Linked DNA regions of Homo sapiens. The protein of the gene in region 2 interacts with the protein of the main gene of each other region in a pairwise test. Each region holds a gene or a part of one and is shown on either strand. Other genes may lie near its edges. The genes, in order: SAXO1 and BEGAIN.

Region 1 (11,462 bases), on a different chromosome or scaffold from region 2:
CATGACAAAGCTAACAATAGAGTTCTAGGGCATGGGGATATTGTTCCAGTATCACTAACAATGGTGACATTGTTTTAAGCAGGTAAAAAGCCATCTGTTGAAACTCTTCTGGCCTGCTTGTTCAATGACCTGGGAATCCACCTAACCTAATATTGTCATCCAACCCATCTTTCACTAGCTTTATCCACAAGATTATCTTGGCAAGAATTGTTGCAAGGCCAATTGTTTCCTCTTAATTATTTTCTTCCAAACTACATCTTTATTACCTAAAACTGCTCTCCTCTAGCTGCCCAGTTTGTTCTATGTGACCTCACCCCTCCTGATGCTCAGCTGATTAGACCACAGGAGACAGCCTCATGCCAGAAGAGCCACCTGTCACAGGCTGGACCCAACCAGGAGCTCTTTTCTGTGGAATTTGGAAACAGCACATTAAACTCTTTAGTTCTCTGAAATGAGAAGTGGTATGAAGCTAGGGCTGGGGTAGCCACAGACAGCCAACGTGCAGAGGAAGTCAGAGTACCCAGAAGAAAACAGATCAGACACCGCAAGAGCCATAAGGTCCGAGAAAGACACATACTCCCAACTAGCCATTAAATACTTTTGATGAACTCAGGAAAACATCTGTCCACCTTCAGGTCTGTGCCCCATGTCCCCTTTTCCCTGACTTCTCTTGAGGTCGCCAGCAGAGGCTGTAGAAGACCTCTGCAGACACCTTCTGGGCCCTGACATGGAAGTTCTCTGGACCTGAAAAAACACCGCTATAGATGATGGGAATCCCACTGTCTGAGGATCACTGATTTTTGACAGTCTAGAGATATTCAAGGACCTGAACAAGTTCACAAAGCTTGTAAGTAATTAAATCCAGGACTGCAATCCCAACAGTCATAGTGAGAGGTGAAGCCAGCTGAGCTTCTGGGTCAGGTGGGTACTTGGAGAACTTTTGTGTCTAGCTAAAGGATTGCAAATGCACCAATCAGCACTCTGTAAAACTGCACCAGTCAGCAATCTGTGTCTAGCTAAAGCATTGTAAACGCACCAATCAGCACTCTGTAAAATGGACCAATCAGCACTCTGTAAAATGGACCAATCAACACTCTGTAAAATGGACCAATCAGAAGGATGTGGGCAGGGCCCAGTAAGGAAATAAAAGCTGGCCACCCAAGCCAGCAAGGGCAACCTGCTCAGCAGTGGCAACTGGGTCGGGTCCCCTTCCCCATTGTGGAAGCTTTGTTCTTTTGCTCTTCACAATAAATCTTGCTGCTGCTCACTCCTTGGGTCCGCACTATCTTTATGAGCTGTAACACTCAGTGTGAGTTTCTGTGGCTTCATTCCTGAAATCAGCAAGACCACGAACCCACGGGGAGAAACGAACAACTCCGGAGGCGCCACCTTTAAGAGCTGTAACACTCACTGCAAAGGTCTGCAGCTCCACTCCTTAAGTCAGAGAGATCACCAACCCACTGGAAGGAAGAAACTCTGGACACATCTGAACATCTGAAGGAACAAACTCTGGACACACCATCTGTAAGAACTGTAACATTCACTGCGAGAGTCTGCGGCTTCATTCTTGAAGTGAGTGAGACCAAGAATCCACCAGAAGGAACCAATTCCAGACACAATAGCATGTTCTTCCCCTAATATTACTCACTGCCCTCCCATGTGAAGCAAGATAAAGAACAGGGTATTCAATTGACTCTGCTCTTCATTTGGAGCTGTTGTTCACAGATTGTATGTAGAGTTTTTTTCATTTGCAGAAGACTTGAAATGCATCATACTTGAAAGAGAAATTGGACCATTATGGGGAAAGATAGTGATTTTTAAAAATAGTTACTCATAATGGGTAGTTTCTAAAAGTTAAGTTATTGACCAGCACTGGGAGAAACTTAACTGATTTTTTACATTACAACCCCAATTTGTTAACATTAGAATGAAGGGCTTTTGGATAGTCTAGATATTTAAAATATAAGGATATATTTTGCTTAGCAGCTAATTTGACAGCCATTTAGAAACATTTTTCTTTCCTTTTAGAGAAACAACCAGAGAAACTTCAAAGTTACTTTGAACAAGCTGGTAAAGACAATAAAACAGAATAGTAGGGTATGCTATGCAGGGAGTACGTCTTTAATCCCCAGAGTCATTGTTTTGAAGACTTGCAAAGTTCAAAACTGAACAGCAACTTAACCTTAGTGTTTGTTAATGTCAGTATGAACTCACAAAGCCTAATAAATGCTGGACTCAAGTGTAGGCATCCCAGAAAGGGCAGAGAGCCTCCCAGAGTATAAGGAGTAGATGAAGTCTTTGCAAACCATTCTTATCATCAATATTTAATCAAGCCCCCCAAACACCAGATTACATCCCCCCCCACCCCCCCGCCCCACCGGAGTTAATTCTCTGCAGGGCATTTTTTATTACATGCAAGTTAGTAAACAATCCTAACTCTCTTCTCTAGGGTGCGAGCTCCACAGAGCTGCTGGCAGGATCTCCCACTCAGACTCAAGTGCTCAGGCAAGTACACTTCTTCATTCTTCATTGCCTAGAACAGACCTTTATGCTTATTTAATAACATCTACCTATGCCTTACTGTGGATGCACGCATTGTTCTACTTGCTTAATACTGATTCAATCCTCTCAATAACTCTGTTGAGTCAGGTTCTATCTCCCTTTTACTGATGAGAACGCTGAGGTACACAGAAATAGAAACTTCACTGTGAAATGGTTTAACATGACACAGTTAGGGAGCAGAAAGGCTGGGATTTGAACCAAGATAGGCTGGCTCCACAGTCTGCGCTTGGAACTGCAATACTCTGCCACTTCTCGTAGTCAATCATCACTTAATCATGTGTTAAATCAAGTTAAGAAAAGTGACAAGAATGGAATGGAGATAATATATCTTTAAGGAAATATTAGCAAACTACAAATCCACTCAGAAAAACCAAAACATTAACAGATTTAAAGTCAGCCTAATTCAGATATTGGGCATTTCTGAAGAAGAAAGAAGGAAGGAAGGGAGGGAGGAAAGCAAGGAAAGGAAAGAAAGGAAGGAAAGGGAGGAAAGGAACGAAGGAACGAACAAAGGGGGCCAGGCACAGTAGCTCCTCACACCAGCACTTTGGGAGTCCGAGGTGGGAAGATTGCTTGAGCCCAGGAGTTTGAGACTAACCTAGGCAACATAGTGACACCTCATCTCTATATTTTAAAAAAGAAGAAGAAATGCTACTCTTTAAGGCTTTTTTTTTTTTTTTTTTTTTTTTTTTTTTGCGGGGGAAAAGACTATTTATCTATGTTACTCTCCAGCTCAAAATCCATCCATGGCTCTTTGCTGGCGAGTTCACATTCTGAGACATGTAAGAGTCCCTCTGCAATTTGCCTCCAGCAAGCTTCCGGCACGATCTCCTGCAGGCTCAAGTACTCAGGCAGACATGATGTCTTCCGTGTCTCTCTGACTGCCCTGCCCTGCAGCAAGGGCAGCCGCACTAAACCCCAACATACCCTTTCCTCCAGGGCCTGTGCTCCTCTCCCGCCTAATCCTCACACCAACCTTAAGAATATCGCAAGGACAAAAAACCAAACACCGCATGTTCTCACTCATAGGTGGGAACTGAACAATGAGAACACATGGACACAGGAAGGGGAACATCACACACCGGGGACAGTTGTGGGGTGGGGCGAGGGGGGGAGGGATAGCATTAGGAGATATACCTAATGCTAAATGACGAGTTAATGGGTGCAGCACACCAACATGGCACATGTATAGATATGTAACTAACCTGCACGTTGTGCACATGTACCCTAAAACTTAAAGTATAATAATAATAAAATTTAAAAAAAAGTGGCAGAGCCAGCATTTGAAACCAGGCAGTCTCACTCCAGCTTCACTTTCCTCATCACTTCTCCATCCTAAAGCCTTCCCCGGCTACCCCATCCCAAAGCGCCTCTCCCACCCCTCACATCCTACATCACTTGTTTTATTGGTCTCATTCATCTAAGGGTAGCTGTTTCCACCCCTCCACCACCCATCCCGAGACATGTCATCTTTCCAAATAAACTATAAATCACCTGAAGGTCAGTAATAAATATTTTAATATCAATGGAGGGAATGACGTTTAAAACTGCCCACTACAGAACAGAATCAGAACATGTTACTCTGAACGGATCCATCTGCAGACTATAAGGTCGAATAGATCATGTTTACTGCTGTAATTGGAATATGAAGTTGTACTCTAATAATATCTGAAATTTGACATATACCCACTTGTACTCATTTTATAAGATGAAAGGTATTTATGAACAATTAAACATTAATTCTGATATCCAAAAAAGGCCATTTTTAAGGAGCATAACATAGCTTAACATGAAAAGTACATGAAATCTACAATAAAAATTCAATCTTAACGTGAAAGTTTTTCTTTTTTTTCTTGGCATCTCTATCTGGATTCTGCTAAAGATAAGTCATCAGCAAGTATCTGTTAAAGGCTGTTCTTTGTGTTTTTTTTCCTTAATCAGAATTTATGAAGTCAATTTTATTTAAATTAAAAATAAGAATTCTTCTTAAAACATGTAATATGAAACCAAGTCCTCAATTTTTTTTCCTTCCTCTTAATGTGTAACAGAGACTCTAAGAAAATAAAATCTAAGGTTAAGGAAATTTCCATCGATATGAAGAAAATATTTTCCAAAATTAAAATAACAAGTTCCTCCCTGGTTAACATAACTGATTTAAGTTGCAGATACATGGCTGCCCCTGAGATCACCTTCCTCCACAAGCTCTGTGAAAGGGCCAAATCCACATCCTTTTCAGCAATTTTTGAGTCCTCTATGGGACTACCTTTTTTATGAAATGCTGCACATACTACCAATGCTTCATAAATATTTCATGATACATTAACCAGTCCTGGAATTTCCTGCAAGATTGCACAAAATCTTTAAAATGGTGCACTGTAAGCTGTAAAATAATCAGATATAAAAGTAAGCTATATCAATCCCTTCATTAACAATTTTTTACAAGAATTTTAGAAAAAGTAGTGTTACTACATTTTAATCTCAGGAGGGAGATTTGCTATTTATATTACTTTACTAAAAGGCTTTTAGAATTACACTTTTTTTTTTATATCAGATACTATTTTCTCAGTTGGACCAGAGCCTTCATATTGTACTCTACAATCAAAAATGGCCCATTGTGGGAGTTGGGGGAACTAATTAAGTTGGTTAATGGATACAAAAATAAGTTGGATAGAAGAAATAAATTACAGTGTTTGATAATACAGTAGGGTGACTATAGTTATAATTTGCCATATATTTCAAAATAGCTAGAAGATTATTTGTAAGCTTCCCAATACAAATAAATGATCAATGTGTGAAGTGATAGATATGCTAATTACCCTAATTTGATTGTTACATGTTATATGAATATATCAAAATGTCACTTGTACCCCAGAAATATGTACAATCATTATGTATCAATTTTTTAAATGGTCCAGTGTGACTCGAAAATAGACCAGACTATAAATTTTAACACCTAGCAGTGTCTGATACCCAGTAAAATATGAATAAAATTTAATTGATTGACCTAAATTGTGCCTGAAGCTTAACATGTTCCCATATATTAAAATTAATCTCAATGTTTCTATTTCCTTATCTGTAAAATAAAAGAGCTAGAGACCACTAAGATCCCTTTCAGCTTTAAAAGTCTGATTAACGTTTTACTTTACAGCAACCCTGCCTTGCGCCACCCACTCCCCCACCTAACCACAGTTTCAAATTTAGTCATCTGGGAAAGAACAGCTCAATAGACTGAAAACATCGCCAGGGAAAAGAGAGGCTAAAATCAAGGAATCGAATTTCCAAACTAAGCAATGCTTCCCATGTTGAGGGACCCACAGTAAGATAATAATATATGGGAAAATACTTTTTGAATTTTCAAAATACTGTAAAGATGGAAGGTGGTTTAATATTATAAAATGCTGGGCCGGGCGTGGTAGCTCACACCTGTAGTCTGAGCACTTTGGGAGGCTGAGGTGGGTGGATCACAAGGTCAGGAGTTCAAGACCAGCCTGGCCAACATGGTGAAACCCCATCTCTACTAAAAATTCAAAAACTAGAAAAGAAGATGGCAACCGTGTGGGATGAGGCCAAGCAAGATGGAACTGGGGTGGAGGTGCTCAACATGTCCACGGAGGAGATCATCCAGCGCACATGGCTTCTGGACAGTGAGATCAAGATCATGAAGAGTTAACTGTTGAGAGTCACCCATGAGCTCCAAGCCATGAAGGACAAGATCAAAGAGAACAGTGAGAAAATCAATGTGAACAAAACCCTGGTGTACCTTGTCTCCAACATCATCGAGCTCCTGGATGTTGATCCCAATGATCAAGAGGAGGATGGTCCAAATATTGACCTGGACTCCCAGAGGAAGGACAAGTGTGCTGTGATCAAAACCTCTACACGACAGACATACTTCCTACCTGTGATTGGATTGGTGGATGTTGAAAAGCTAAAGCCAGGAGACCTGGTGGGTGTGAACAAAGACTCCTATCCAATCCTGGAGACACTGCCCAGAGTACGACTCGCGGGTGAAGGCCACAGAGGTGGATGAGAGACCCACGGAGCAATACAGTGACACTGGGGGCTTGGACAAGCAGATCCAGGAACTGGTGGAGGCCACTGTCTTGTCAATGAACCACAAGGAGAAGTTTGAGAACTTGCGGATCCAACATCCAAAAGGGGTGCTGGCCCCCAGGGACGGAGAAGACCCTCCTGGCCTGGGCCTGTAGGGCACAGACTAAGGCCACCTTCCTAAAGCTGACTGGCCCCCAGCTGGTGCAGATGTTCACTGGAGATGGTGCCAAGCTAGTCCGGGATGCCTTCGCCCTGGCCAAGGAGAAAGCGCCCTCCATCATCTTCACTGATGAGCTGGATGCCATAGGCACCAAGCACTTTGACAGCGAGAAGTCCGGGGACCGAGAGGTGCAGAGGACGATGCTGGAGCTTCTGAACCAGCTGGATGGCTTCCAGCCCAACACCCAAGTTAAGGTAATTGCAGTCACAAACCGGGTGGACATCCTGGACCCCGCCCTGCTACGCTAGGGCGGCCTGGACCGCAAGATCGAGTGCCTGGGCCAGAATCATGCAGATCCACTCCCAAAAGATGAACGTCAGTCCTGACGTGAACTGCGAGGGAGCTGACCCGCTGCACAGATGACTTCAACGGGGCCCAGTGCAAGGCTGTGTCTGTGGAGGCGGGTATGATCGCACTGCGCAGGGGTGCCACGGAGCTCACCCACGAGGACTACATGGAAGGCATCCTGGAGGTCCAGGCCAAGAAGAAAGCCAACCTACAGTACTACGCCTAGGGCACGGCAGGCCAGCCCCGGACTCGCGGCTGAAGTGCGCAATAAAAGATGGTTTAGAGGCAAAATAAAACAAAACAAAAAAAATACAAAAATTAGCCGGCCGTAGTGGCGGGCGCCTGTAATCCCAGCTGCTCGGGAGGCTGAGGCAGGAGAATCGCTTGAGCCCGGGAGGCGGAGGTTGCAATAAGCCAAGATCGCGCCATTGCACTCCAGCCTGGGCAACAGAGCGAGACTCCGTCTCAAAAAAAATAAAAAATAAAACTCTTCGGAGTAGCATTTTTTCAATAACAGGAAATGCTGGAGATAATCAGATGCAATTGGAAACATTATACTCTCATATACAAAATTAGAGTTACTCTATTCAAAGCACTCCCCCACCATGTAGCTTCTTAAGTCAAGATAATTAAGTGGTACATTAGTTTCAAAAAAAATTTAGATGCTGACCTTACTGTTTCTGCAAACCACAATACTCTGCTTTTTTGGTGCTGATTATGTTGAAAAGAGAATATTATGACATTCTATGGTAATAATTCCAATTGCAAGATTTTGATCTTCAAGGAAAGAAGTAGAGCATTGTTGTGGAGGCAAAGCCTTGAGCTTGACGCAGTAAAATATGTCTGATTTTTTTTTTAGCCCAGCAAAGCTCACTGAAAAGTTTTACAAGTGATTGGAATCTTTAAATTTAGACATTTGAAACACTTTTCACTTCGTAATCTGCCATCTACTCTGAAAGGCGTACCACTTTCCTGAGCTCTGCTGGACCCTAAACTCTAATTGCTCATTTTAGAAAACTAAAGATAAATCTATTTAAAAATAAAATAAAATCCAGAACTCCAAAGGTTTTGCTTTTCCATTCAGGCTGATTTGGTTTAACCCGCAGTGAGAATTGATCAGGAAACGTCTGCCATCTTGTGGCCAAATATAAGAACTTGCTCCAAGAGAGTCACCCATTGGTGGCTTTTCCTCAGCAGCTGTGGGCAGCTGCTCCTGCAGATGGACACCTTTTTATCCAGGCCTCTGAGCATCTCCAGAGCCCACTCGCCAACAAGTACAATGTCCTCAAAAGTTAAAGTTGAAAGGACATTAAAGAATTATTTGCTCAAGAAAAACTTCGGAAGAAGAGAATGTGAGAGAGAAGGGGGAATAAATGTGCCTCTCTCCCTCCCTGGCAGCCCTGAGGGTCTCCACAAATCTCCAGGATTAAAAAATGGGGGAACTGAAGCCCAGAGAGAACCAGTGACTCACTCAGGAACCCCGGTCTCCCCCTCCCACTCAAGGGCGCTGTCTCTGACTTCTTCATGCATGCTTGTCTTCCAGATTTCCCATTGCTTTTTCCCATGACCTCAGACTGGAAAAGCCAAATATAGACTTCCACAGCTTAGAAAACACCTATAAAATTCCTCGCTCCATCCCAACCGGTCACTGAGCAGATTTAATTGGGGTGGGAGGGATTTAATTGGGGTGGGAGAGATCAAGACTTCCAAATAATGAGACTCAAGATCAGTGTTGTCCAACAGAACTTTCCGCAGTGATGGAAACACTCCCTATCTGCATGTGCCGGTATGGGAGTGACTATACTCGAGTAGCTACTGAGCACTTGACATGTGGCTTGTGCAGCTGAGAAACTGAATTTTTAGTTTTATTTAACTTTCATTTATTTAAATGAAATTGCCACAGCTGGCTACCATACTGGACAGTACATCTCTAAATCTTACATTCCTAACCCAGTCCAGCATGTTATGACCTTGACAAACAAAAAACGCCATCCATTCATTCAAAAAGATATGTGTTAGCTGTTAATAAAGAAAACTGTGTTGCTATGATACAGTGCACACACAAAAATAGAAAATATCTGTTTTCCCAGCGTACATATAATTAATCGAGGATATAAAGCATGCTGATGCATAGAGGATGAGAACACGGAGCGGGGTTTTTCTTTGATGGGGAGCCACAGGGCTGGGTTAACAGGGAACTTGCAAGTGAAACCGGGCCTTACAAGTCCAGCAGGAGGAGGGAACATAGGTATTTTAGAGAAAGGGAAAGGATAAGGATCAGAAAAGGGACATCAGCAGGTCCACTCAGGGGATGCCAAGAAACCTGATCCAATTCAAGGTGTAGTTTCATGTAAGGGAATCATGGGAGAAAAAAAAACTAGGAAGGTAATTTAGGACCAGTTTCCAAACACAAAAATGAGAGAACCAGGGAGGTTGTAACCGGAATAAAAGGGAAGGGACCAATTAAAGAAAGATTACAATGGAGGAGGGACCCAGACTTTAGAAAAGAGTCAATGTGCCAGGCTCGGTGGCTCACGCCTGTAATCCCAACACTTTTGGAGGCCAAGGTAGGTGGATCATTTGAGGTCAGGAGTTTAAGACCAGCTGGCCAACATGGTGAAACCCCATCTCTACTAAAAATGCAAAAATTAGCCCAGCATGGTGGTGGGTACCTGTAATCCCAGCTACTTGGGAGGCTGGGGCAGGAGAATCGTTTGAACCCAGCAGGCGGAGGTTGCAGTGAGCAGAGATCGCGCCACTGCACGACAGAGTAAGACTCCATCTCAAAAAAATAAAAAAAATAAAAAAATAAGAAGAAGAAAAAGATTCAATGTTCTGTTTGAGGGAGAGTAAGAGATGATTCAAAATTTTCACCCAGGGTGAATGGAAGATTGCTGGCACCATGAATGGGGCAGATACCAGAATAATGTTTGAAGGTTGTTGAAGTTGAGATTAATGAGACAGATGGATCACCAAAGCACTTTGAGAAGATGAAAATGAAACTGGAATTCAGAAGACAGGAGAAACTATTGGCTGAAACCATAAAATGGAGGAGAAAATACAGGATGAGGAGAGAAGAAAAGGAGAAGAGACACAAGAACAGACTCTGCTTCCAATGGAAAGTGACTCCTTTGCAGGGACAGAATGAGAACAGAGTCAGAGAAGGAACACCCAAATGAGTCATAACCCTACTGCAGGGGCAGGAGGGAGACTTCTCACTATATATGCTCTGCACCTCTTAATGAGCATTCTGCCTTCCTACCTAGACTGCACGCTGTGCAAAGATGGAGACTATGTCTTATACATTCAATCCCAATGCCTAGAACAATGCAGGAGGACACAGGAGGGTAATGTAAAGCATCCCAGTAGAAAGAAGGCCTTAGTGGCTCATGCCTGTAATCCCAGCACTTTGGGAGGCCGAGGCAGGCGATCACCTGAGATCAGGAGTTCAAAACCAGCCTGGACAACATGGTTGAAACCCTGTCTCTACTAAAAATACAAAAATTAGCCAGGCATGGTGGCATGTGCCTGTAATCCCATCTACTCAGGAGGCTGAGGCAGGAGAATCACTTGAACCCTGAGGCATAGGTTGCAGTGAAGCGAGATGGCACCACTGCACTCCAGCCTGCGCAACAGAGCAAGACACTGCCTCCAAAAAGAAAAAAGAAAGGCGGCCTTAGAAAAAAAGGTTTTGCTTGGTAACATGTAGTCCTAGACTATACACTGCTCTGGCCCCACTTAACAAAGCTCAAAAGCAAGACCCACGTTTGTACATGATCTAGTTCAGTGAGTCCCAGTCCTAGCAAATGGCCAGAATCACCTTTAGACAGTTGACAGGGCCCACTCTGAGAGTATCAATTCAACGGCCTGAGCAACTGATAGTTTTCAAACTCCCTGTGTGATTCTAATCAGCAGCCAGAGTTGGGAACCATTTATTGATGCCAGAGATATAGAAGGTTGCTGATCCAGTTTTTAGAGTGCCCTTTAATTCTCCACACTACTGATACCATTTTTATATGCATGTGTCATATTTGCCCTTTTTTCAGATTTCAGGACACTAACATATTAAGCACAATCCATGTACCAGGACTCACATACATGATCTTAACTCTTACAATAGTCCTATGAGGTACGTATTGTTGGTACAGATGAGGCGACTATGACCTGGAGTTTAGTTACCAATCTAAGATCCCACAATTAATGACAGCCCAGGAAAGGTGACCTCAGAACCCTCTTGCCTGTTGCTCCTCTGCTGCCCACTCCCTGCCCCAGCCAAGCAGAAACCCAGCTGCCCTGGGAAGCAGATAGAAGGAGCCTCTAAGAGATCATGTGAGTGACA
Region 2 (11,462 bases):
TCCTTCTTGACTTTTGTTCTCAGATAAACATTGGATCGAGTCATTCACACTAGTATAAATGAGGCTCAGTCCCAAGTCTGTGATAACCGGCGGTCCTAGAGACCTTCTACAGTAGCCTCTTGTTTGCTGACCAGTGAAGAGGAGGACCAGAGACTCACCCATGGCCACTCAGCCAGGCAGGACAGCACAGGACAGGACTGAAACCCAGGGTCCTCCTGGGGCAGCAGCTTCCTCCCAGAAGTGGTTCATGGTGGAGCCCCAGGCATTGTCTCTCAAGAAACGGTCTGCAGGTTGGTGACTGGAAGCCAGGGATCTGCCTTGCTTCCCCAGAGCCACCCCCTCCAGAAAGCATTCTGGGGACACAGGCTTGTCCAGGCCAGGAAGGTACGAGGCACACAGTGGGTGCTCAAATCAACAGACAAGCCCCTGTGAAGGGCTGGCATCGCTATCTTTATCACCACTATCATCCCGGCGGCTGAATCCCTACCTTGGGCCAGGGTCCTTCCCCAGTTATCTCTAATGTCCCCATGGAGACACTGGGGGGAGTGTGACTTGAGCCAGGGCACAGCCCAACCAGGACTCTGCTGGACTCAGTCTTCCGGGCCTCAGTGCCTGGTTTATAGAATGAGACTGACCCTAGGATCACTTTCTCAGGCTTGCTGTATTTGATCTGAGGCTGGAGCTGAGGGGCTCAGAGTTGGTGCCCATCATGAGATACGATCCTGGGGGGCTGGTGGGGGAAGGTGGGGTGCAGCAGGAGTTAGGCCTGGAGACCAGGGCCTCCAAGGCCAGGTATGGTCCAGCCCCTCCTGCTGGGGCTGATGCCACCTCCCGCTTCAAGGAGTCAAGCTGGGTTCCCGGGTGGGGCCACTCTGGCCAGGCCCCAGGGTGCAGCCTCGCCCCCTGAACACACTGTTGGGCCCCAACAGGCCCTGAGGCCCCAAGAGATATGTGCAAGAAGCCCTGGGATGGAATCCTCCAGGGCCTGGGTGGCACCAGGACTCCCCCAGGGCCCAGCAGCCCCCAGAGGACGGTCTGCGTGGTAAGTGGAGCCAAGAGCAGCAGAGAAGTGGGGCTCCCAGCTCACCACCCCTGGAGGAGCAGGCGGGGAAACAATGCTTATTAGGTGCCTGTGGTCATGACTGACTTTTCACTGCTGGGGAAACTGAGGCATGATGAGGATGGGTGACCTGTCCAGAGTCACACAGAAGGCCACTGACCCTCGAGATGCACTTCCACCCAGAGCTGCCTGGCCCCAGCTGGCCATGCAGACCTACAGGGAAAGGGCTGGCAGGGCTTCAAATCACCAGAACTTCCCACCCACCGGCCTGTCCCTGGCCATCCCTGGACAGAGCAGGCCACCTGAGGGCCAGCAGCACACAGGTGGCAGAGGTGCAGAGGTGGAGGGCAAAGTGCCTGGGCCCAACCCGGCTCCTCCACCTCCCTCCTCCTCCATGCACTGGGGACATAATGATGGCGCCGACCTCCTGGGGTTGCGCCCAAGCTGGGGGTCAGAAGCTGAGAACACTAGTCAATGCTCGGCGAGTATCACTCGGCGAGAGTCACCGTGCTCACCCGGAATTCATCCTCAGAACAGACCCCCTCCCGGCAGGAAAGCCTTCCTGGGTGGCTACAGGTTGATATCCCACAAACCCATCCCACGGCCTCCGTCTCCATCCTGTGTTGGGAGAAGGTGGAACTGGGGCACGAGCAACATCCGGGCAGCCCACGAGGACCCTCCCTGGCCCAGGGGACACAGATGGTACAGGGCAGGAAAGGTCAGCACCAAGGTGGGGGTGCCAGCCCCTGGATGAGGTCCCATTTGCCCGACGCTCTGCACAGCTCCATCACCAGGACAGCCAAGGAAATCTCACCACATCTTTTGCCCATCCACCTGTCCATCTGTCTGAGGCCAGAGTGCATGTGTGGACGGGGTACGAGGAAAGAGCTCTACAGCCCAAGCCCGGACTACCTGTGTCACCCGGGACAAGTGGCAGCCCCTCACAACCTCAGTTTCCAACTCCATATAATTGGGGCAGCTATGAAAGCTGCCTGACAGGCCTATGGGACAGTCTGCCTCATGTGGGGTTGTGTCAGGTTCAAAAATGTAAAAGGATAATCACGGGAAAGCCCAAGGTAAACCACCAAGGCTCTGCCGCAGTGGGGAGGGGATTATTATAATTGTTATCATTACTGTTCATGCATATGCCTTCCGTACAGAAATAGTCTGCCTGCCCCAAAGCCAGAAATTTCACCTTAGAGATTCATTCTTTTGGCAATTAAGGTCTTTCCCGTTACAAATATTATAAATGGGGTGTGGGGAGGGAACTCGGAGCAGGTCAGCCAGGGCCTGTGGGGAAGCGGCACATGGGGAGGGAAGAGACCTCTGGGGTTGAGACTCACCCGACCTGGAGACCTCCAAGGGGAGGCAGTCCGGCCTCCACGCTTGCCACTGCCCAAGCAAGGCCCACTAGTTCCCACGGCCTGGCCTGGCCCCACTCTGCTTGCAGCCTCAGTGGCCGCCTCCGAAGAAAGCTGGGAGCTCAGGGCTGGGTCCTTCTCCCCTGGGGCTGCAGCTCTTGTAAGGGCCTCCTGGGCTAGACCTTGGCCTCGATCCACTGCAGAGGGCTCTGGGCTGCGGCCTCTGGGCACCCTGAAGGCCTCCAGGGTCCCAGGGTCCAGAACCCGCACAGTGACCTCATCCAGGAACCTGGAGAAGGGCAGTCTGGCCTCCCGCCAGCGGCCCAGGCGTGCGAGGGAGCCAGTGACAGCCCGGCTGCCTGTGTTCAGGGACTCTGGGGAGGAAGGCTGGGCTGGCGACACCCGGGCCATCTCCTGGCTGGACCGAGCTGCCCAGCGGTGGCAAGATGCTTTGCCCTTGGGGTTCCGACCTTGGCTGGGGCTTGGCATGTGGCTTCGAAGGTCCTGTCTGTGAGCTTCCTTGATGGGGGCTTCTGTCCCGGGCTCCAGGAGGGAGCTGTAGCCGTCCTGCCTGGGACAGGTAGGGTTAGAGCCCCGTGCCTGGGAGCTGGCCCCTGAGAGCATCCTCCTGAGTCAGTCCAAGGTCCGGGCTCCCCAAGAGCGCCGTCACCCACTCCTCTCCTCCCATGGGGCTGGGATCCCTGTGCCCTCTTGGGGGCTGTGCCTCCCGTCCTCACAGGCCAGGGCTGCCTGCCAGATGCCCGCCTGCCCATTGATCCAGTGGCAGGGCCTCTTGGCCTCCCACCCCCAAATCGATTCTCACTAAATGAGAGCTGAGCTTCAGGGCTTAGAAAGTGCTAGAGAGGGGAAGGTCGTGTCCTGGGCTCTGCCTGGGGAGGAGCCCTCCCTGAGTGAGCTCCCATGGTGCACAGGGCCCTAGGCTGGGCCTCCCCCTCTCCTACTCTCACATCTCCTCTGCCAGGTGCGGTGCAGGGTGCAGGGGCACAGAGGACAGGCAGTGGACAGATGGCCACGGTGGCCACCATGATGGCTTGAGTGCTGGGCCTGAAGCAGGGCAAACTGGAACTGCAGCAAACCAGCAAATGGAAGGGGGTGGCAGAGGCTGCGGGCAGCCCACAGTCCTCCCATGCATCCTTATTACAGAGCCTTCATTTTCTTTTGAGATACAGGGTAGTCGGCTAAAAGACCACCTTTCCCAGGCTCCTATAAGCCAGGCCAGGAGGTAGCCAATGAACTATAAACAGAAGTTGGGTGTGACTGCTGGCAGAACTCTGCAGAAAAGATCAGACAGCCAGCCTGTGTCTTTTTCCCATTCACCAACCTCCTGCTTCTTCTCTAGAACATGGAAGTGATGGCTGGAGCTGTGGCAGCCATTTTGCACCATGAGACAAACTTGTGGCAGCAGCCATATATAAAAGATGGAGGAGCAGAAAGACAAAAGGAATCCGGATATCTCATGACCACTGAATCATCATCACACCAGCCTTGCATCATCTGCCTCTGGTACTTTTTTTTTTTTTTTTTTTTCTGAGATGGAGTTTCGCTCTTGTTGCCCAGGCTGGATTACAATGGCATGATCTCGGCTCACTGCAACTTCCGCTCCCAGATTCAAGCAATTCTCCTGCCTCAGCTTCCAAAGTAGTTGAGACTACAGGCGCCTGCTACCATGCCTGGCTAATTTTTGTATTTTTTGTAGACACAGAGTTTCACCATGTTGGTCAGGCTAGTCTCGAACTCCTGACCTCAGGTGATCCGCCTGCCTTGGCCTCCCAAAGTGCTGGGATTATAGGCGTGAGCCACTGTGCCTGGCCTGCTTCTGGTACTTCTTTAACTTGAAAGAAAAATAACCTCTTGTCTTTAAGCTATGGTTATTTCATCTCTGTTGGTAGCAGCTATGTGCAATTCTCCAATGATATACAGGGTTAGGGTGAGAAAAAGCAGTTGTTAACGCTATGAGCAAGAGCCTTTGGCACATGGAGGCCTCGGGTGTAGTTAGGTGGGAGTGGGGCCAGGGAGATAAACTTAGAGAAGGGTTAGAGCCAGACCTGGACCCTCCATCATTTGTGTGAAGGGAGACACGCCTGCCCACTGCACCCCACACAGAGATCCTTCCTAGGATGCGGCTTTAGGCTGCTAGACTGAAGGAAGGCTTTCCAGGGGTGGCAGCCCAGGCCCTTGGCCTGGTGGGCATTACCACCATCGCTGGCCTGGCCTCTGGTGCTGCTTGGAGCGAGGCTGAGGCCCTGTGTGGCATGCTCATAGCTGTACATCTGGGCTCTGTCTGGATGCCTCCATCAGGTGCTGAGGACCCCTGCTTTTCTGAGCTCTGCCGGACACCTCTCTGAATGCCCAAAGCGCCCCTGACTGAGTCTGCAAAACTCAGTGCGTGGCCTCACCATGGCCTCAGCCACCCAAGACAGGAACAGGGGCCGCTTCAACTCTTTCCTTCCCTCTTCCCTGTCCCCGCCCCTGGCTGCCAGGCCCTGGAGATTCAGCCTTTCTCAGGCCTGGCCACCTCCCTGCATCCTCACCATCACTTTGCTGGTACCAGACACTACCATGTCTCACTTGGACATCTGCGATCATCCCTTCCTGTGCCTCCTGAGTCGATGCGGATCCAGCCCGGCCTATCCCACAAACACGGCGAGTGTGACCTTTTAAAATCACAGACCAGGCCGGGTGCGGTGGCTCACGCCTGGAATCCCAGCACTTTGGGAGGCCGAGGCAGGCGGATCACCTGAGGTCAGGAGTTCGAGACTAGCCTAACCAACATGGTGAAACCCCATCTCTACTAAAAATACAAAAATTAGCTGGGTGTGGTGGCGCCTGCCTGTAGTCCCAGCCTTGGGAGGCTGAAGCAGAAGAATCACTTGAACCCGGGAGGCAGAGGTTGCAGTGAGCTGAGATCACACCACTGCACTCCAGCCTGGGTGACAGGGCAAGACTCTATCTAAAAAATAAACACATAAATAAAGAAAAAATAAATAAAATCACAGGCCAGGTGACTAGACAACGTCACACCTTCATATACACTGCAAGGCCCTGACAATTGCTGGTGTCTTCTCTCTCTCTCTGCTACCCTCCCGCCCCGTGCTCCCCGCTGCCAAGGAACGTCTCTCAGGTCCTGAATGTGCTAAGCTCTATCTGACCTCAGGGCCTTTGCACTTGCTTTCCCTCTGCCAGAAACACTCTCACTCTCTCCCTTCCCCTCCTTCCCATCATCTAATTCCCAGCTGACCTTCAGGGTCCCAGTTTCACAGCCTGTCCCCCTCTGTCCCTCAGATTAGATCAAGTACCCCTGCGGCAGCCCCTTATAGCCCTGGCCCCCAGCTGTAACTAATGTTTGCAATTATTTATTATCTGTGTGTGTGTCCCCCCGTAGAATGTAACTTCCACTGTATCCCAGCTCTTTGCATAGGGCCTGGCACATAGCAGGTGCTCAATGCGTAGTTCTTGAATGACTGACTGAATGAATGGCATAGCAGGTTCAGGCTGTCAGTTCACAAACATCCCCAGCCTGGTGTGGGCCTACTGTGACTGGAAACAGGATGAGAATATAGGGGAGGGATCTCAGGCTCTCGGGAGGCCACAGTGTCCTCCTCCCACCCTATGGTCCCCGACAGTCGCCCCTCTACACCCGGACAGCCCTTCCCCAGCAGCAGCCGTTCAGCCCCTGCCCTATTACCAGTGGGAAAGAGACTTGGAGGCTGGCAGATCCAAGTTCAAATCCCTTCTCCAACACTCCAACAGGCCTGCGGGCAAGCCACATCCCCTCCTCATCTGTCAGGTGGGCATGGGGCAGTACTCAGCCCATGGCAGTGCTGGGAAGTGGCATGAGCAAGGGACTTCAGGACTCATTAGCACTGGGGCTCTGATGTGGCCGTTTCACTAGCACGCATGGTTGCAGGAGTGTTCTGGGGGCTCTGGCCAACCAGTCCTCTGAGCTGCTTCCAGAGTTTCAGGCTGCATCAGGCAAGTTTCCGTTGTCATAACAACCTGCTGGCTCTCAGGCGCCTGGGCCTGAGGCTCTAAGGATGCTGCCGGCTACCGTGGGCTCACGGCCTGGACCTGCTCACCTACCAGCAGCCTGGACAACCTCTCCTGGAGGGGCTTCCGGCTCCTGGCACCGCAGCCCCTGCCTCTTGACTCATCTGATTCAGTCCTGCTTCCCAAGCCCATCCTGCGTGCCAAGCTCCGTGCTGTGCATGCGTCATCACCCCAAATCCCCACCCGCCTCTGTGCATCAGGACAGCCAAAGGCTCTATTTTCTGCTAAAAGAAGCAGGGTCTCAGAAAGGTGCAGTGACCCGTCGGAGGTCACATGGCTTGGGCATGTCAGGCCCAGGACAGAACCCCAAAGGTCAGGCACTCACACCCGTTTCCTCTCCAGATGCCCAAGCCCCTCTCCTGCTGCCTGGCACACACTGCCCCTGTGGTTGGAAAGCTGGCCCCTGCCAGCTCGGACAGAAGGGGCATGAGGCTGCCCACTGTCTGCTGGGATTGGAGCAGGAAGACCAGGCCACAGGATGTTGGGAGGACCCTGCCGAGTGGGCAGGCATGCCGGGCTTCTGCTGACAGTGCCAAACGTCACCTCGCTTCATTCTTACAGCAGGCCTGAAAGCTAGGAGCAGCTACCCCGCTTCACGGAGGAGGAAACTGGGCTCTGAGGGGTCTCGGGTAAACCCCCATGGTGCGGGCATGCGCCAGGGGCCGCAGCATAGGCCAGCAGAGGTGTGGTCACCTTCACCAACCTTCCCCTCGTCCCAGCACAGAAGTTTATTTTTTTTCCTTTCTTTCTTTTTTCTCTTTTGTTTTTGAGACAGGTCTCGCTCTGCTGCCAGGCTAGAGTGCAGTGGCGCGATCTCGGCTCACTGCAACCTCTGACTCCCCGGTTTAAGCGATTCTCCTGCCTCAGCCTCCCAAGTAGCTGGGATTACAGGCACGCACCACCATGCCCAGCTAATTTTTGTATTTTTAGTAGAGATGGGGTTTCTCCATGTTGGCCGGGATGGTCTTGATCTCCTGACCTCGTGATCGGCCCACCTCGGCCTCCCAAAGTGCTGGGATTACAGGCGTGAGCCACCGCGCCCAGTCAGAAGTGTCTATTATTATTCCCCTTTTGCAGTTGAGGACACTGAGGCTCTGGGAATCCGCACACTTGTGCTCCTAATCACCTGCCCCGCTGTCCCTGGATTTTCCACGCTGGCCTCAGAATCTCCAAGGGCAGCCATGGTCTTGATGTCTCCCAGTCCCCAGCACCCAACACAGGTGCCCCAGTTCTCTTCCTCAGATAGGACATGTACACAGCTGTCCAGGTCTTCCAGGGAGATCCCTGGGCAAGGACGCCCCTGTAGGAACCCCGGCTGGCCGCTGACCTTTCGAAGAGGTCTCACTGCTTCTTCCTTATTTCCTGAGTGGGTCTTCCAGGGCAAAGCGGGCCTGGAAAGGCCAAATAGCTGTTAGTTTGGGTTGGCTTTTCTCCCACCAAAGTCAAGGTGGGGTTAAGTCTCCCTGTCTGATCAGCCCCCTCCTGACCCTGCGCCTGCGTAGTATATGTCTCTGAAGCAGAGGGACATGGGGGTCTGTGAGCAAAACACTGGCATCTGGGAAATCAAGGCATGAGTGACCTGAAGCTTCACCCATTCAACCAACCGTCCTTCACCATCCACCCCTGTGACCGCTCACCCATTTACAGGTGCCATCCACGCACCAACACATCCTTCTGTCTCTGTGTCCCTCACCCGCTGATGGGCACTCATCTGTTCACTGGTCCTCTCACTCCCGTCTCCATCTGTCCGCCTGCCCATCCCTCCATGTCTGTCCATTCCTCTGTTACTTGTGTCTCGTATCCATGCATCCATTGCTTTGTATCCATTTGTGCACTGAGCTGCCTTCTCAGGCCTCTATCCACACATCCGTCAATATACACTCATCACCTATCCATGCACTCACTCTTCCAGTGTCCATTCATTCCTCTGTCCATCATTCATGGACATGTATTCAAGTATTCATCCACCCATCCCAACATCCAGGCACTACCTGTATCCATTTATGTATCCATTCCTTCATCCATCCATCCAAAGATCCTTCCATCCATTCATCTACCAATCTTGCCTTGTGTATCAGAAGTCTCCCTCCCTCCACCCATGTATCATCCATTGATATTTTGTTCTATCAATCCAGTCCTGTATCCATATCAACTTTTCCATCTGTCCACCCACCCATCCCTATCTTGCTACTTACATCCATCAACCTCTCCTCCCGTCCATCTATCCCTCTTTCTCTCTTTCTTTCTTTCTTTTCTTTTTTTCTTTCTTTCTCTCTCTCTCTTTCGTTTTTCTTCCTTTTTTTTTTTTTTTTTGATGGAGTCTCACTCTGTTGCCCAGGGGCTGGAGTGTAGTGGCACGATCTCGGCTCACTGCAACCTCACCTCTGCCTCCTGGGTTCAAGCAATTCTCCTGTCTCAGCCTCCCAAATGGCTGGAACTACAGGTGCACACCACCACACCCACCTAATTTTTTTTGTATTTTTATAGAGACGGGGTTTCACCATATTGGTCAGGCTGGTCTTGAACTCCTGACCTCAGGTGGTCCACTCACCTTGGCCTCCCAAAGTGCTGGGATTACAGGCGTGAGCCGCTGCGCCCAGCCTATCCCTCTAGGTTTCTACCCATCCATCCGCTGCTCTATCCTGCTAGTGCTTCCCTTCCATACAGTATCATCCACCCATGCATCCCCTTCAGCATGCCTGCGTTGCTTCTCCACCTCATGCACCTCTTAATCCCAGCATGCACCCACTGTGGGATGACCAGGCTTCCATGTCTGGCTTCCCCAGGCAAAGCCCAGGCCTGACCCATCTCCATCCCTGACTTGGGCTCAGGGCTTGCTGATTGAACCAATGACTGCAATTCCCCTGCTTGGCTCAGAGCTGGGCCCTGGCTGATCCCCACCCCAGGCAGACCACAGAGGCTGCTGTACTGTCCTCCAGACTCAAGGCCTGCTGAGGCAAGGGCCACTTTTGAGTTCCCTTCCTGGCTAGAGGGGAGAGAAGAGCCCCAGCAGCTCCTGACTCCTGCCGTACTGGCCAAGGTCCATGTCTCCCAGCAAACTGTGGACTCGTGGAGGGCAAGGTCTGTGTCAGACTCACCTAAGTGACCCCAATGAGCAGTGCAGAGTGGGTGCTTAGGTACAGCATGTTAGGTGAGTGTAGAATTCACACACTTAGTCATTCATCATTCATTCATTCATTCATTCCTATAATGATTAAAGCAATAGAGACACCTCTGGCCAGCTTCTCCCACCACAGGCTACAATCTGATGCCTGCTCTCAGGCCACAGAAGTCACTCCCCTGACTGTAATGGGTGTTAAGCTTCTGATACGGAGCCCTAGAGAGGAGACAGTGAGTCAGCGGCAGAGGAGGAACCAGAACCCAGGGCTGCAGACCTCCGTCCAGGCCTCTCCACTAAGGCTAGCGACCAGCTCTGCGGCAGGAAGGGGAGTCAGAAGAGAACCATGCGGGGTGATTCTAGACCAACACGGCGAGTCCTAGGGTCACCCACCCATCTGTCCCAGGGATCCTTACCTCCCTTAGGGGGAGGAGCCACACCTCCCCACCGCCATGGCTTCCACACTCCAGCAGGACACAGCCTCTCTAAGTCTTGAGACTTGAACACTCTACACTCTCCCCATCACCTTCAGGCCTTGGGCCAGGCTCCTGTAACACACCTTGACCCCTTCATCTGTTCAGCAACTACTCAGCCCTTGGACCCCACCTCCTGGGACCCTGGGTAATGATTTGTGGACTGTGTCCAATAGCCATGGACTCATGGGCTTCAGTCAATCCCTCCCATCCATCCATCCATCCATCCATCCATCCATCCATCCCTCCCTCCCTCCCTCCCTCCCATCCATCCATCCATCCATCCCATCCATCCATCCCTCCCATCCCTCCCATCCATCCCTCCTTCCCTCCCTCCCATCCATCCCTCCCTCCCTCCCTCCCATCCATCCATCCCTCCCTCCCTCCCTCCCATCCATCCATCCCTCCCATCCATCCCTCCCTCCCTCCCATCCATCCATCCATCCATCCATCCATCCATCCATCCATCCATTCATCCATCCATCCACTCTTCAGCATCAGGAGTGCCTGCAGGAGTAGGGAAGCTCCTTCAAAGTGTTGCCGTGGAGATGATGCGTGGAAATGCTGATCCAGGGCCCAGTACATAGCAGGCGTTCCATAAATGGCAGCTATGTGGGCCAGACCCTGCGCCCAAGTCTTGGGAGAGTGGATGGAAGATCTTCCAGATTGCTTAGGGCTCATTTCCTCTCTCCAGGCCTGGGCTCTGACAGGTGTCCCCCTACTCCACCCCAGCGCATGGAAAACTCATCCTCCAGGCTGAGGTTCTAGGCAGCCCTCCCCTCCCCACTCAGCTCCCAGGTGCGAACAGCTCCAGGTTTTGACGACAAACGGAACGCGGAGCCTTGGAATCTATAAATATGAGACAAAAGCTGGGGAGGGCCCTTGGCGGCAGCGCAGCCGCCCATCGCCCAGAGCCCGTGTGCTGAGCCCGGGCAGAGCCGCATCTGCCACAGTGCTTGCTTTTCCAAGCTGCCCTGATTATAGTGAGAGTCGGGAAAATTAAGGGTTTGCAGGATGCTGCTGGGGCCCTCTCTGCCGTCTCCCCGCCCTGCGTGTCACAGATGCCAGGCAGAGCCACCCCCAACGGCCAGTTGCCCCTGCTGGCAAGACCAAGGCCAGCCTGGCAGGGCTGCACACCGCAGTTTGTTAGGGGCTTCTGCCCACAGTCCTCGTGGGAGCCTGGCCCTGGGAGTAGTGGGGGTCTCTGCTGCTCTTGGCAGGCAGAGGAACTAGGGTCCAGAGAAGGAAAAGAACCTGTCCATGGCCTCCAGAGAGCCAGAGCACTGGGGCCTCCGACGGAGCCTGGCTGTGGAGACCCCGCCCCACCCATACCCCCAGGGCCTGGACCCCCAGTCTGCACTGGCGGCCGACCTTGGCCATGC

Evidence for each region.
Region 1: the proteins of BEGAIN (region 2) and SAXO1 interact in binary tests that used the Homo sapiens proteins (3 or more experiments, as listed by UniProt).

What each region holds. Positions count from the first base shown.
Region 1 is NC_000009.12:19,020,786-19,032,247, forward strand, and holds part of SAXO1 (stabilizer of axonemal microtubules 1), read right to left. Parts: intron 1-11,462. UniProt on the Homo sapiens protein: May play a role in the regulation of cilium length. Stabilizes microtubules at low temperature.
Region 2 is NC_000014.9:100,574,908-100,586,369, forward strand, and holds part of BEGAIN (brain-enriched guanylate kinase-associated protein), read right to left. Parts: intron 1-11,462. UniProt on the Homo sapiens protein: May sustain the structure of the postsynaptic density (PSD).